Regions from separate parts of the Homo sapiens genome. Here regions 1 and 3 are each linked to region 2. Evidence: fine-mapped expression QTL. A gene starts in region 2. Each other region holds a variant in brackets. All regions are shown on one strand. Distances are between the middles of the regions. Region 1 overlaps CHST11 (carbohydrate sulfotransferase 11). Region 2 holds the start of CHST11 (carbohydrate sulfotransferase 11). Region 3 overlaps CHST11 (carbohydrate sulfotransferase 11).

Region 1 (4,266 bases), 87 kb after region 2:
CCCCTGTTGGGCATAGGATATTTACTTTGAATGAATTTGTCTGAATTTTAGAGACTCTCTTGCTTTGCTCCATCTCATGGGGAAATTGGGAAAACAAATGAGAAAAAGGGCAGTGCAAATAACTTCAGGTCAGCTAATCTGGAGGGGAAAGAAGTGTCTTAGGAGTAAAGATGGTTATTAGTTAGGCACGGAGGCAGGTGCCTGTAATCCCAGATACTCGGGAGGCTGAGACAGGGAAAATTGCTTGAACCCAGGAGGCGGAGGTTGCAGTGAGCTGAGATTGCGCCACTGCACTCCAGCCTGAGAGACAGAGCGAGACTCCGTCTCAGAAAGACTGTCAGCTACCAGTTGCTATACCAGAGGTAATAACTGAATGATAATACCCCTGCATTTTACTTTCTAGCAACTTTCATGTCCACTATTTCATTTTTAACATCTTGGATGTGTAGGACCAAGTTATGATAAGCAACTAACTTCATCTTTCCTCAATTGAGAAGAGTGAGGCATGCTTCTAAATGTAGTGTTGAACATTGTGGAGGATATGCTAACATTTTAGAAATAATCCAATTTAGCCACTGTGGGAAATGGTATGGCAGTTCCCCCAAAAATTAAACGTAGAATTATCATGTGGTCCAGAATTCTACTTCTTGGATATATACCCAAAAGAACTGAAAGCAGGGACTTGAATGGATATTTGTACAGCTATGTTCATAGCGGCATTATTCACAATAGCCAAAAGGTGAAAACAACTCACGTGTCCATCGAGGGATGAATGGATAAACCAAATGTAATATAAACATACAATGGACAGCTATTCATTCAGGCTTAAAATGAAAGAAAATTTTGACACATGCTACAACATGGGTGAACCTTGAAGACATGATACTAAGTGAAATCAGCCAGACACAGAAGGACAAATACTGTGTGATCCAATTTCATAACAATGTAAAAAGCACAGGGTATTTTGGGAGAGACACACATGAAACTGGTATCAGTGATTATGCAAAATAGTCTAGGACCTGGAGCCCCAGTGTCCAGCACATAGTGTGTGTTTTAGAAATACTAATGAGTAGACAGTTGTTGCCTGGGTAGAGTGGGGATAGTGGGGAAGACCTATTTTTCACTGTATAAACCTTTTAGTGCCTTTTGGTTTTCATACCATGTGGCTTCGTTACCTCTTCAAAACATTAACCCTTTAGATCCAGTGGCAGTGAAGGTGGTAAAGGGAGATGTAAGTTCCCATTTAGGACATTTTAGGACCCCCAAGGGTTGTTACCCTAAAGAGTAGTTGATGATTAAATTAAATCTCTGAACCATCCTCATGCCGAAGGGGTGTTGACAGGGGACAGTGGCAACCAGTGTGTTAGTCCATTTGTGTTGCTATAAAGGGATACCTGAGGCTGGGCAATTTATAGAGGAAAGAAGTTTGATTGGCTTACAGTTCTGCAGGCTGTACAAGCATGGCACCAGCATCTGCTGAGCTTCAGGTGAGGCCTCAGGAAGCTTCCAGTCATGGCAGAAGGTGAAGGGGAGCCGGGGTGTCACATGGTGAGAGAGTGAGCAAGAGAGAGGGGGAGGAGGTGCCAGGGTCTTTTAAACAACCAGATCCCATGTAAACTCACAGTGTGAGAACTCACTCATTACCAAGAGGATAGCACCAAGCCATTCTTGAGGTATCAGCCTCCATGACGCAAACACCTCCCCCTAGGCCCACGCCCAACATTAGACGTCACATTTCAACATGAGATTTGGAGGGGACAAACCATCCAAACTGTGTCATGCAGTATTTTTCCAGGCTTAGTTTTTACATTAGCAGGACAGGCATTTTTGGCAACATGTCATATTTTGTGTTTCCATTTGCTCCTGATAGGGGAGGAGACTAGTGGTCTCTTCTAGCTTTTTATGCTTTTAAACTGTTTTGCAGAGAAATGTGGTGTTTTCCCCCAACCCC[T/C]TCCCATCCTTCTCGTCCCTGGACTCGGCTCAGAGTCTTACAGGAGTCCAGGAGTATAAGTTGAGGGAAATTAATGCATTTGGTTGGATCCTGCCTGATGTACTTTATCTATCAGTGGCATCATGAGACCTGACGACAGTCACTGAAGTCACTGTATACTTTTTTTCACCTCTTCCTGCCTCTTCCCTTACCCATCTCCCCTGCCCCGGTAACTAACAGATTCCTTCCAGTCAAGGAGCTGATTATTATATTTTTCCCTTTACTTTTTTGGGGCACTGCTAAAGATGTATCTGAAGCAGGGCATGGAGGTATGCACCTATAGTCCCAGCTACTCGGGAGGCCAAGGCGGGAGGATCCTAGGAATTCAAGACTAGCCTGGGCAACATAGCAAGATCCCCATCTATGCAAAAAATTTTAAAAAATTAGCCGAGCCTGGTGGCATACACCTGTAGTCCTGGCTACTCGGGAGGCTGAGGCGGGAGGATGGCTGGAGCCCAGGAGTTTGAGGCTGCAGTGAGCTATGGTTGAATCACTGCACTCCAGCCTGGGCAACAGAGAGAGACCCTGTCTGTTAAAAAAAAAAAAAAAAGAAAGAAAGAAAGAAAGAAAGAAAGAAAGAAAGAAAGAAAGACCTGAAAAGAACTAATTAACGCTCATACATAGAATTTTTGATGAGAACCTTCTGGCTCTAAAGAAAGTATTGGTCAACTATACTGTCTAGGCTAATTTCTTAGAAAATAATGAGCATAGTTAAGGATAACTGAGAAAATGTAAACTATGGAGACTGTATCCCATGTCAAAATTAAAAAATTGGTGGATTGATAGGGAGAGAGGAGGATAAGGGAGAAAATGTATTTTGCCATTGTAGAAATCAGAAATTTGGGCCGGGCACGGTGGCTTACACCTGTAATCCCAGCACTTTGGCGGGGGGATCACCTGAGGCCAGGAGTTCGAGACCAGCCTGGCCAACATGGTGAAACTGTGTCTCTACTAAAAATACAAAAATTAGCTGGGTGTCATGGCAGACACCTGTCATTCCAGCTACTCAGGAGGCTGATGCAGGAGAATCAGTTGAACCTGGGAGGCGGAGGTTGCAGTGAGCTGAGATCGTGCCACTGCACTCCAGCCTGGGTGACAGAGGGAGACTTGGTCTAAAAAAAAAAAAAAAAAGAAATCAGAAATTTGAGCAGTCAATGATGTGCCCTGGGGGTCACAGTCCCCCCACCCCGGAGATAATGGATTTGGTGCTTTCTTTTTGATTTTTCAAAATAATACTAAAGTCATTTTCGCTTCCCTCTGAATTACTGCAGTAAATTTATATAGGGTGGATGTTGGCCTTGCCACAGCAATTATGTCGTTTCGAAGTATGCCATTGTTTTGTCCTGCAGCTGAAAAATGGGTGGGTTTATTAGGTCCACAGGGCAGCGTCCTTGTTCTGAGAAGAGGGAGGCATGCAGGAATGGCCAGCATTCCTTTTTGTTGGGCTTGTCCCTGTGGATGGCAAGAATCCCCTGGAGCCAGGCACAAATCCTGTCTGAGCAGCCCTATTATTACCCTGCAGAGTAAAAGGGAGACAAAGACCCAAGGTGAATTTCGTTACAAATTGAAAAGCAAAAAAATCAATCCATTCATTGCCTTCTTAAATTCTCTGTCATGTTCCTCCACACTCAGAGGTTTAAGGACCATCAGGGAATGGCCCGTTTGAGGGTGGGGAGGGCAGGGCCCAGCCCCATGAGCTGCCTCAGGGCTTCTGCAGAGCTGGCCACATGTTGGGCTTTATTGACATCAGGTGTTGTGACCCATGGACTTGATCAATCATTTCGGCCTTCCCTTGTGGAGCCTGTCCAGGAGAATGGATGTGGACTGTGTTCTGATGGAGGAAAATAAATTGTTCTTGGTCAGGTTTTTGAAAATAACAGTCCTTGTCTCTCAGGTGGGCACATGCTTGGCTGATTGATGGAATATCTAGAAGCCTTGGCTTAAATATAGAACAAATGATATTGAGCTACTTAATCTTACTATCACTGTACCAGGTTCCATAAAGATGATGCCTTGGTCAGCTCAGGCTGCTGTAACAAACAAAGGCACGTTTCTTATAAACAATAGAAACTTGTTTTTCACAGTCTGGAAGCTGAAACTCTGGGATCCAGGTGGCAGCTAGTTGGTTGTTAGTGAGGCTCTCTTCTGGGTTTGCAGATGGCTAACTTCTCACCATAGCCTCACATGGTTGAGGATGGCTGGAGAACTCTCTAGGGTCTCTCTCTCTCTTGCTCTCTGTCTCTCTTTTTTTAAAAGCAGCATCTCACTTTGTCACC
Region 2 (4,000 bases):
ACCTAGTGCTCACAGCGCAGAGGAGGAAAGTTGCAATTTCAGGTGAGAAAACAGCAAAGACTTCTTGGGAGAGGTGGTAGCTTATGTGTCACAGCCTTAATCCTCACTGTGTTTGGGCAGGTTCCTGATTGTGGGAATGCAAGAATGGATGTTGGGCATGATTCACCATCCTCCCCCACCATGTGGGCCAACTCCATGATCTCTGTGACTCACAGGGAATTGGACTTCTGATCTCTTCCTTGACCCTGTGACTTCCCAAACTGCCTTGTGCATGTCCAGGCTTTGGGGCAGGTAACTGAAGTCTTTGGCCTATGAGGTGAGAGGTCACTTGGGTGACCTGGGAGTAAATCCCTTCCCCTCCCTGGCTCTGTAAAGCCAAGTGTTAAATGAGAGACTTATATTCCAGGCAAAGGCTTTGTGCAAATGCCCATCTAAGCCATGCCCTCTGCAAGGAATCCCCTTTCTTAGTGATGATGGTGGGGAGGTGGGGAGGGTGCAGTGCAACTCCCATTCCTGATCTCCTATCACCAGAGCAGAAGAATCACTGGAGAACGACTCTGTCTGAAGCTTGTTCAGCCTGGCTTCCTTGAGCAAGCAACTTATTCACAGGTAAGTCCAAATTAATACAGCGCACACCGGCTACATAAATATTGTGCTTTGATTGTCTTCTGTAATCAAAGGCAAGGCTGCTGAGTTTGTTACTTTCCCCACCATGCAACTGCTGGAGGAGAACTCTGGGGGAAGGGAACTGAGGTTGCCCAGGTGGTTTTTGTTGCATGTGTCTAACTGCAAGTTGTGTCTCTGTCTATCGAGGGGAGGATAAGGCCCATTACATTCAGATTCAATAAGAATTTATCAAATGCCTATTTTGTGAGAGGCATTGAAAGACACAGTATCTTATTTCATTTTTAATTGAATTAGTAATGACTTGATAAGGCACAAAGGTTAGTCTAACTAACATTTTTTTTTTCCCTGACATACGAGTGATCCCTACACTATTGGCTGTGTCCACTTTATTGATTGTGAAACAGCCTAAATGCATGGAATTGGAAACTGGAAGTCATTCTACACAATACAAGAAAGCAGCACCATCTTTCCATGTACCTGCCAGTGCTATGGCTGGCTTGGCTTTTCCAGCAGTTTTCTGGACTTGGTTGAGGTGGCTTCCTAGGGGCATTTTCTCACCCCCTCCCAGCTAAGACTGCTGTTAATTTTGAATAATTTGGAGGATGCTCTACCCTTTGGGGTAGCAGAGTTTTGCAACCCACAGATCCCTTTTGCCTTGAGGAATGGTGGTGATGGTGGGTGTCAGAGATTCTGTCTGTATAAGTCCCCGGGAAAGCTCAGCTGTCGCCTGACCCGAGGGTCGTGCAGTTTCCTTAACCCTGACTTTAAGTCAGCCCTCTTTAACCCCGACTCCCAAGCTGGGCTGTCCTTTGAAAGAAAAACGAAACCGCCCAGTTCTGAGCGTCGGAAAATGGGCACTCGCTCCCTGGGGGTTTGGGGCAACTTCCCCGCTACGTCGCCCAGGGATTTTAAATAATTGCCAGCCACCAGAAACCCCCTAACCCTTAATTCTTCCCTCCGAGACCCAGCCCGCTGCTTGCCACTTCCCTCTCCAAACGCTGGCGGGGGTGGGTGGCAGCACCGAGGCGATTTTCTTCGTCTTTTTTTCCTCCGGGTTTTGTCATGGAAACGCTGACACAACCTCCAGACGGCGGCCGAGCCCGGCCGGGGACTGAGGGCTTTTGGGACCCTGCGGGAGCGCGGCGCGCACACCGCACTCCCCGGGCAACAGCTGGACGCGACCATATCCCGGGTAGGGGCGGGGGGAGCGCGACGCTCCGCCCCGGCGCTAGGGTCCCTCCCTCCTCCCGGCTCTCCGCAGGCGCCCTCCCCTCGCCGGGGGCCGCGAGTTGCATTTGGTAAAACCCAGCCCCGGAATATATAGATCGTTGGAGCGCAATGAAGTAGCCTTTGGAGAGAAGGGAGAGGGCCCGTCGGACAGCCACAGCGGCCAGCGCAGCGGCAGCGGCGGCGGCACCACCATCACCGCTCGCACCCCAGCCGCCCGGCCCGCGACCAGGCAGCGGCGGCCGCCGGCGGGATCGGAGGAGGCGGCGGAGCGGCGAGGAGGAGGAGCAGGAGCGCGCAGCCAGCGGGTCCACGCATCTCAGCACTTCCAGACCAACTCCGGCACCTTCCACACCCCTGCCCGGGCTGGGGGCTCCGAGAGCGGCCGCGAAGCGACTCCGATCCTCCCTCTGAGCCTTGCTCAGCTCTGCCCCGCGCCTCCCGGGCTCCGGTCCGCGCGGCGGGGTCCCTGCTCCTGCGCCCCGGGCGCGCTTCCCGGACACCCCGGTCCCCGCAGCCAGGACAAAGCCATGAAGCCAGCGCTGCTGGAAGTGATGAGGATGAACAGAATCTGCCGGATGGTGCTGGCCACTTGCTTGGGATCCTTTATCCTGGTCATCTTCTATTTCCAAAGTATGTTGCACCCAGGTAGGGGGCGCGTTAGCGTGGTTTTGTTGGATATTTTCTTCTCTCTCGCGCTCTAGCTCGCTCCGCCTGATTTCTGCCTCTTCCAACCCTACCTCTCCGCCTTCGGCCTCTTCGGGGCTCCTGGCTGCCCAGAGCTCCTGGCTGCCCAGATCTACCCGGGTCACCGCGTCGGGATGGGGAGGAGAAGGGAAGGTGTGCTTCGCCCTCTTCTTCCTACCGGCTCCGGGCTGGAGGATGGGACCAGGAGGGGCGGTAGTTTTTTTTTTTTTTTTTTTCTTCTTCTTTTTTTCTTTGTGTCCCTTGTCTGTCTGTCTGCGAGGTAGCAGGGAAACGGAGAGGTGTGGGAAGCAACCGGGGGTGAGGGGCTGGTTTGAGGAGAACGAAACTCCCTCCCTGCTGCTGCCGAGGTCGGAGGATGAAAGAGTTACCCGGAGCCGGCTGCTCTGCGCCCGGGCGAGCCGCCTCTTCCTGGTTGCCGGGCCGGGGGCGAAGGGTGTACGCCCCGGCGAGGTTGCGAGTCCCTGCAGCAGGCTGGGAGCCCGGGACTGGGCTCCCACGTGTCCCGGGCTCCGCGCAGAGCTGAGCAGGTGTGGAGAGTGGTCGGGTGCCCAGCGTTGCCCCTCCACCACGCGCCGGCCGTTTGCCCCCGGGGTCCGGCTCCGCAGTGACCTTGCGGCTGGTGCCCCGGGGCCTGCTCCAGCCCCCAGCCCTGAGCTGGAAACTCCGAGCTCCTGGGTCACGCCTTGACCACTGCAGTTTTGGAGGAAACTTTGGCCAGGTCCTGGGCTGACCGTCCGTTTGCATCCCCCACTTCTGGGATCCGAGCAACGGGAATCCCCCGGGCGGCGTGGGAATGAACCCCATTCCTCCGGTCCCTTGTGGCTCAGGCAAAGTTCCACGTCCGAAATCTGGACTGGGGGAGGGACGAGGCTCGTCGCTTCCTAGGGGTGCGAGGGAAAGTTTGGGTTCTGGAGAGGGAGGGGCGCCCTCGAGCGCGGCGGCCGGGGGTGAGCAGCTCGGCTGCGAAGCCCAACAGGTAGAACGTTCCGAGAAGCCTTCCGGGTAACGCGGGTCTCCCCGCCAAGCCGTGGCTCCCCTGCTCCCTTTTACCCTCCCTTAGCAGCCCCCTGCCGGGCCACGTTGGCTCAGAAATCCATTTTCTACGCCTCCGAGTTGCCTTTCTCAGCGTAGTCACAGCAATAATTTGCTTTTCTAATTGCAAGGAGGAGGGAGGTGGAAACGCATTTCCTTCCAGGGAAGTGGGGTTGGTGTTTTTCATTTTTGCCTCCCGCCTTCTCCTTTCACTGTGTATCTAACACTTTAAACAGACGCAGTCCCGAATTCATCAAGCCTGCGTTTGGGTCGATGGCAGAGGAATAAAGCTGTTCTTTCCATCAAACAGGCAGGGCTGCAGGCTGCAGATTCCTTGACAGCGCAGGGACAGACGGCCCCTTTGCCCCACTCGGTCTGGAGCAGTTGTTAAGGCAGCCACACTGCC
Region 3 (4,295 bases), 200 kb after region 2:
TCTGCCTTGGCTCAAGCTGGAGCAGGGTGTCCAAGGCAGCCTGGACCCGAATAAAGACACGCTTTATTTCCCCTTCAGTTGACGGAGGGGGATTTTGAAGGTAGCAGGGGAAACAGAGTGAGCAGTGTTCAGGGACGCAGCCCACCTTCCTGGGTAGTTTTCCACTGCAACAGACCCGCCGAGGCCAGCCAGCCAAGGATACTCAGAGTTTTACAAGCATGCTGTGTGGACTGGGGCGGGGGCTGGCTTAGAGCCCCCTATGCCGCCCCCAACCTGCAGTGCCTCTTGGTGAGGAGAGGAGGCAGGATGAGCGTCTGCAATCATTGCCATGACAAAGTACCAGAGGCCGAGGGACTTAAATAGCAATTTATTTTCTCACACTTCTGGAGGCTGGGAGTCTAAGATCAAGGTGTGGTCAGGGTTGGTTTCTTCTCAGGCCATGAGAGAAGGGGCTGTCCCAGGCCTGTCTCCTTGGCTGGTAGATGCACCTTCATGTTCACACAGCAGTCTCCTTGTGTCTCTGTGCAAATTTCCCCCTCTTGTCATGATACCAGACACATTAGATTGGGACCCCACCCTAAGGACCTCATTTTCACTTGATCACCTCTGTGCAGACACTATCTCCAAATAAGGGTACTGTCTGAACGACTGGGGGTTAGTACCTCAGCATGTGCATTTTGGAGAGACACAGTTAATTCATGACAGCGTGTACCTTACATTCCATGGTGTTTATCTGGAGAGGGGGAGGTAGCCCTGGGGACCGTAACTCTGGCACTTCCTAGCGCCTTGATGATTGGCTTTTCTCCTACCTTCTGCTTCCATTCTCCTCCTCCCAGACTCTCTCATCCAATAACCCCCGCATCTGTACCCTGTTCGCTCCATAATAATGATAACTACTCCTTAGTAGTTGCTTCTTAGGTGCCAAGCAAAGTGCTAGGCATTTTATTTTTATTAACTCATGTAATCCTCATGATGACCCTTGAAATAGGCTCTATTGCCGTTCTCATTGTATAAACAAGGGAACTGAGGCACAGAGAGATTTAGTAACTTGCCCAAGGGCACGCTGCTAGTAAGTGGTGAAGCTGGGATTTGAACCCAGGCAGTCTGGCTGCAGAGGATACTTTATAAACCACTTCTACTTCACTTAATAGGCGTAATATTCCACTTGAAGCCCTTCACATCTTACCAAGGGCTCCCAAAACGTTCTCTCACTTGATCTCCATCAAAAAAGAGCACCATTGGAGGGGCTCAGAGGAATGGGTTCTAACATGTGATGTGTCTGGATCCGTGCTCAAGAACTGGGATGATGCCATGGATAAGAGCACAGCTCTGTGTTCTGCATCACAGACTCTGCATTGACTAGCTGTGTGACTTTGGGCAAGTGATGTAGCCTCTCTGTGCCTCACTTTCCTCATCTGCAAAGTGGGGTGACAGTCTCTTAGGGTTGTTTAGGGAGGATTCCTTGAGGGGCTGGCACATGATAATTGCTCAAGACATATGATCGTTGGTGATAATATTACTTCTCCGTATCTCTAAGAGCTTCCGGGGATCTCCAAGAGCCATCACTGCCCCGATCCTCCATCCCCACAGTGCAGAGCTGTGCTGCTCAGGGTGGTAGCCCTGAGCTCCAAATGGCTGCTGAGCACTTGAAATGTGGCGAGTGTGAATTGAGACATGCTGTAAGGGTTAAATACATACCATATTTTGAAGAATAAGTACCAAAAAATGTAAATGATCTCATGAATAATTTTTATATTGATTTTATGTTGAAATGAAAATGTTTTAGGTATGTTGGGTTAAATAAAGATATATTATTAACATTAATTATGGCCAGGCACAGTGGTTCATGCCTGTAATTCCAGTGCTTTGGGAGGCCAAGGCAGAAGGATTGCTTGAGGCCAGAAGTTCGAGACCAGCCTGGGCAACATAGTGAGACCCCCCCCCGCCCCCACCATCTCTACAAATAATTTTTAAAAATTAGCTGGGTATGGTGGCGTGCCCCTGTAGTCCTAGCTACTAGGGAGGCTGAGGTGGGAGGATTGCTTGAGCCCAAGAGTTTGAGGTTACAGTGAGCTATGATGGCACTGCCGCACTCCAGCCTGGGCAACAGAGTGAGACCCTGTCTCTAAAAGAAAACGAATTAATTTCATTCTTTTACTTCTTAAAATTGTGGCTATTGGAAAGCTTAAAATTAAATATGTAGCTCACATTATACTTCTATTGGACTGTAC[T/C]GGGCTAGACTAGAAATGAGACGCTCCAGGGACCACATCTGTTTTGCTTATCGCTGTATCCCAGCACCTAGCCCAGATCCTGGCTTTACAGTAGATGCTCAGAAAATACTTGTTGATGCTGTTTTGATTGTACAGATGCTCTGTTCTTAGCCCCAGAAAGGTCTCCTGGGTACCACGCCAGGACCAGAGGAAAGTCTTTCGTTCCCAAAGCTCAGGGAAAGGGCTACAGGCTGGGTTTTTAGCTCACTGGGTCTCTGCGGCATTGCCATTGCCCACGGGCTTGGCGCAGGTGGGCCCCCAGCTGAATGGCTGGGTTTGATGGCAGAGCCACCGTCTTGCTCTTCAGCCCAAGGGAAAACATGGCTATGGTAGTTTCTTCTATTTTCAGCACATTAGAGAAACCAACTTTGTATGGAGGACATGAAAGCTCATTTCATAGGCCAGAGGAGGCCCGTGAAAGAGAACACTGTGTGCAAACAGCAGGAGAGAAAGACCCGAAGGAAATTTCCATCCCGGCTGAGGTCCTCTCCTGGACTTGGCTGCTCACAGGAGCCTTGTGAAGATAGAAGTGTACTCCTTCTATCCCAGGCCCTTTTTCACACCCCCTTCTTCTCAGAAGAAAATCCGAAACCCAGCTCTTGTAAAGGGGTGCGTATCTGCCATTCCTCTTTGACCTTACATTTATGAAAACTGAGTCTAGCTCCACCTGCAATCTTGATCAATCCCAAGATTTGAGGCCACTGGGTGGAGCAATACAGGGAAGGAGTTATAGTTAAAGGATGCTGGAGTTCAAAGGGGTCTTAGTCTAAACTACTTACATTTGGGGTTTCTGTGGTTCTCATCCTTCTGTGACATCTCTGCTGCTATTGAGGGCTCAGCATGCAAGAGAAATGAGCCTAGATGACCACATCCTCAGCTCGATCCACTCTGTCCACTTCCAGACTGCCATGAGCCTGGGAAGGGTGATGTAGCTGAATCTATGAGAAGAGCGATTCACCTGTGCCCAAATCCTGACATAGCTTCGCCTGAGTTCTGTGTCTCTGAGCAAGTGACAACTTCTCCGAGACTCAGTTTCCTCATCCATAAAAACGGAAGGAGTAGCTCTTGCCTCATTTGTCAGTGGGGTTAAATGAGACAATATGTAAAAAGCAGCAAACAGGCCAGGCACAGTGGCTCACACCTGTAATCCTAGCACTTTGGAAGGGCGAGGCGGGTAGATCGCTGGAGATTACTAGTGTTTCCACCTCCTTAAGCCCAGGAGTTCAAGACCAGCCTGGGCAATATGGTAATACCCCATCTCTACTACTACTACTACTACTAATAATAATAATACAAAAAATTAGCTGGATGTGGTGGTATGCACCTGTAGTCCCAGCAGCTTGGGAGGCCGAGGTGAGAAGATCACTTAGCTTGGGAGGTTGAGGTGGGCTTTGAGTGAGCTATGATGGCGCTGCTGAACTCCAGCCTGGGCAACAGAGTGCAGTGGCACCATCGCTGCACATTTTAAAAAGCAGCAAACAGCGCTTAGCATGTGGTAGACATTTAGGAAGCAAGAGAGCCCCTTCTCTCCTGGGTCCTGAGTGCTAGTTTTTCTGTCTCACTCTCCTCTGCCTCCTGATACACAGCAGTAGTGGTGAAGGTGCTCCTGTCTTTGACCAGGACCCGGGATGCCTGGTTTCCTAGCAGCCACATGATTTTCACCCCAGTTTAACCATACCCAGTGATGGGGTCTCTTCCACAACAAAATTTGGATAAAGTATTCTGGAAGTTGGAGATGACTAGTGTTTCCACCTCCTTGCTTTTCAGAAAACACCTGTTCTTTCTATTTGTGTCAGGATTAGAACATGGAATCTTGGCAAAAAGAAGATGTTACTTTTAATTAAACATCCTGAGCCTCGTTTCTCAGTCTGAGATGAATCAGTGAGCTCCATCTGGGTGGAGGTGAAGGAGAGCAGGAAATCATTTTTAATAGAAATATAAACTCTGATGGCCACAAGATTAAAGTCAAGGATACGTGTTGGTAACAAGGCACCTGGCACATAGTAGGATCTCAGTGTATGTTAC

Evidence for each region. PIP is the estimated chance that this variant, and not a neighbour inherited with it, causes the effect.
Region 1: its variant is the best candidate, but not a certain one, in a credible set for the expression of CHST11 in pancreas (GTEx, PIP 0.56).
Region 3: its variant is the best candidate, but not a certain one, in a credible set for the expression of CHST11 in transverse colon (GTEx, PIP 0.70).

Annotation. Positions count from the first base shown.
Region 1 is chr12:104,541,602-104,545,867 of GRCh38, forward strand. All of the region lies in intron 1 of CHST11 (carbohydrate sulfotransferase 11), which reads left to right. Among named protein-coding and RNA genes, the nearest start is that of MIR3922, 48 kb to the right of the region's middle. The variant T/C (reference allele first, on the strand shown) is at 1,952.
Region 2 is chr12:104,455,028-104,459,027 of GRCh38, forward strand. CHST11 (carbohydrate sulfotransferase 11) reads left to right here and starts at 1,921. Exons shown (of 3, transcript NM_018413.6): 1 at 1,921-2,502. The coding sequence starts at 2,385. RefSeq lists enhancers at 1,590-1,639, 1,660-1,739, 2,660-2,709 and silencers at 1,810-1,939, 2,020-2,189, 2,230-2,509, 3,100-3,239, 3,400-3,459.
Region 3 is chr12:104,657,856-104,662,150 of GRCh38, forward strand. The region is part of intron 2 of CHST11 (carbohydrate sulfotransferase 11); the gene reads left to right. Among named protein-coding and RNA genes, the nearest start is that of MIR3922, 68 kb to the left of the region's middle. The variant T/C (reference allele first, on the strand shown) is at 2,232.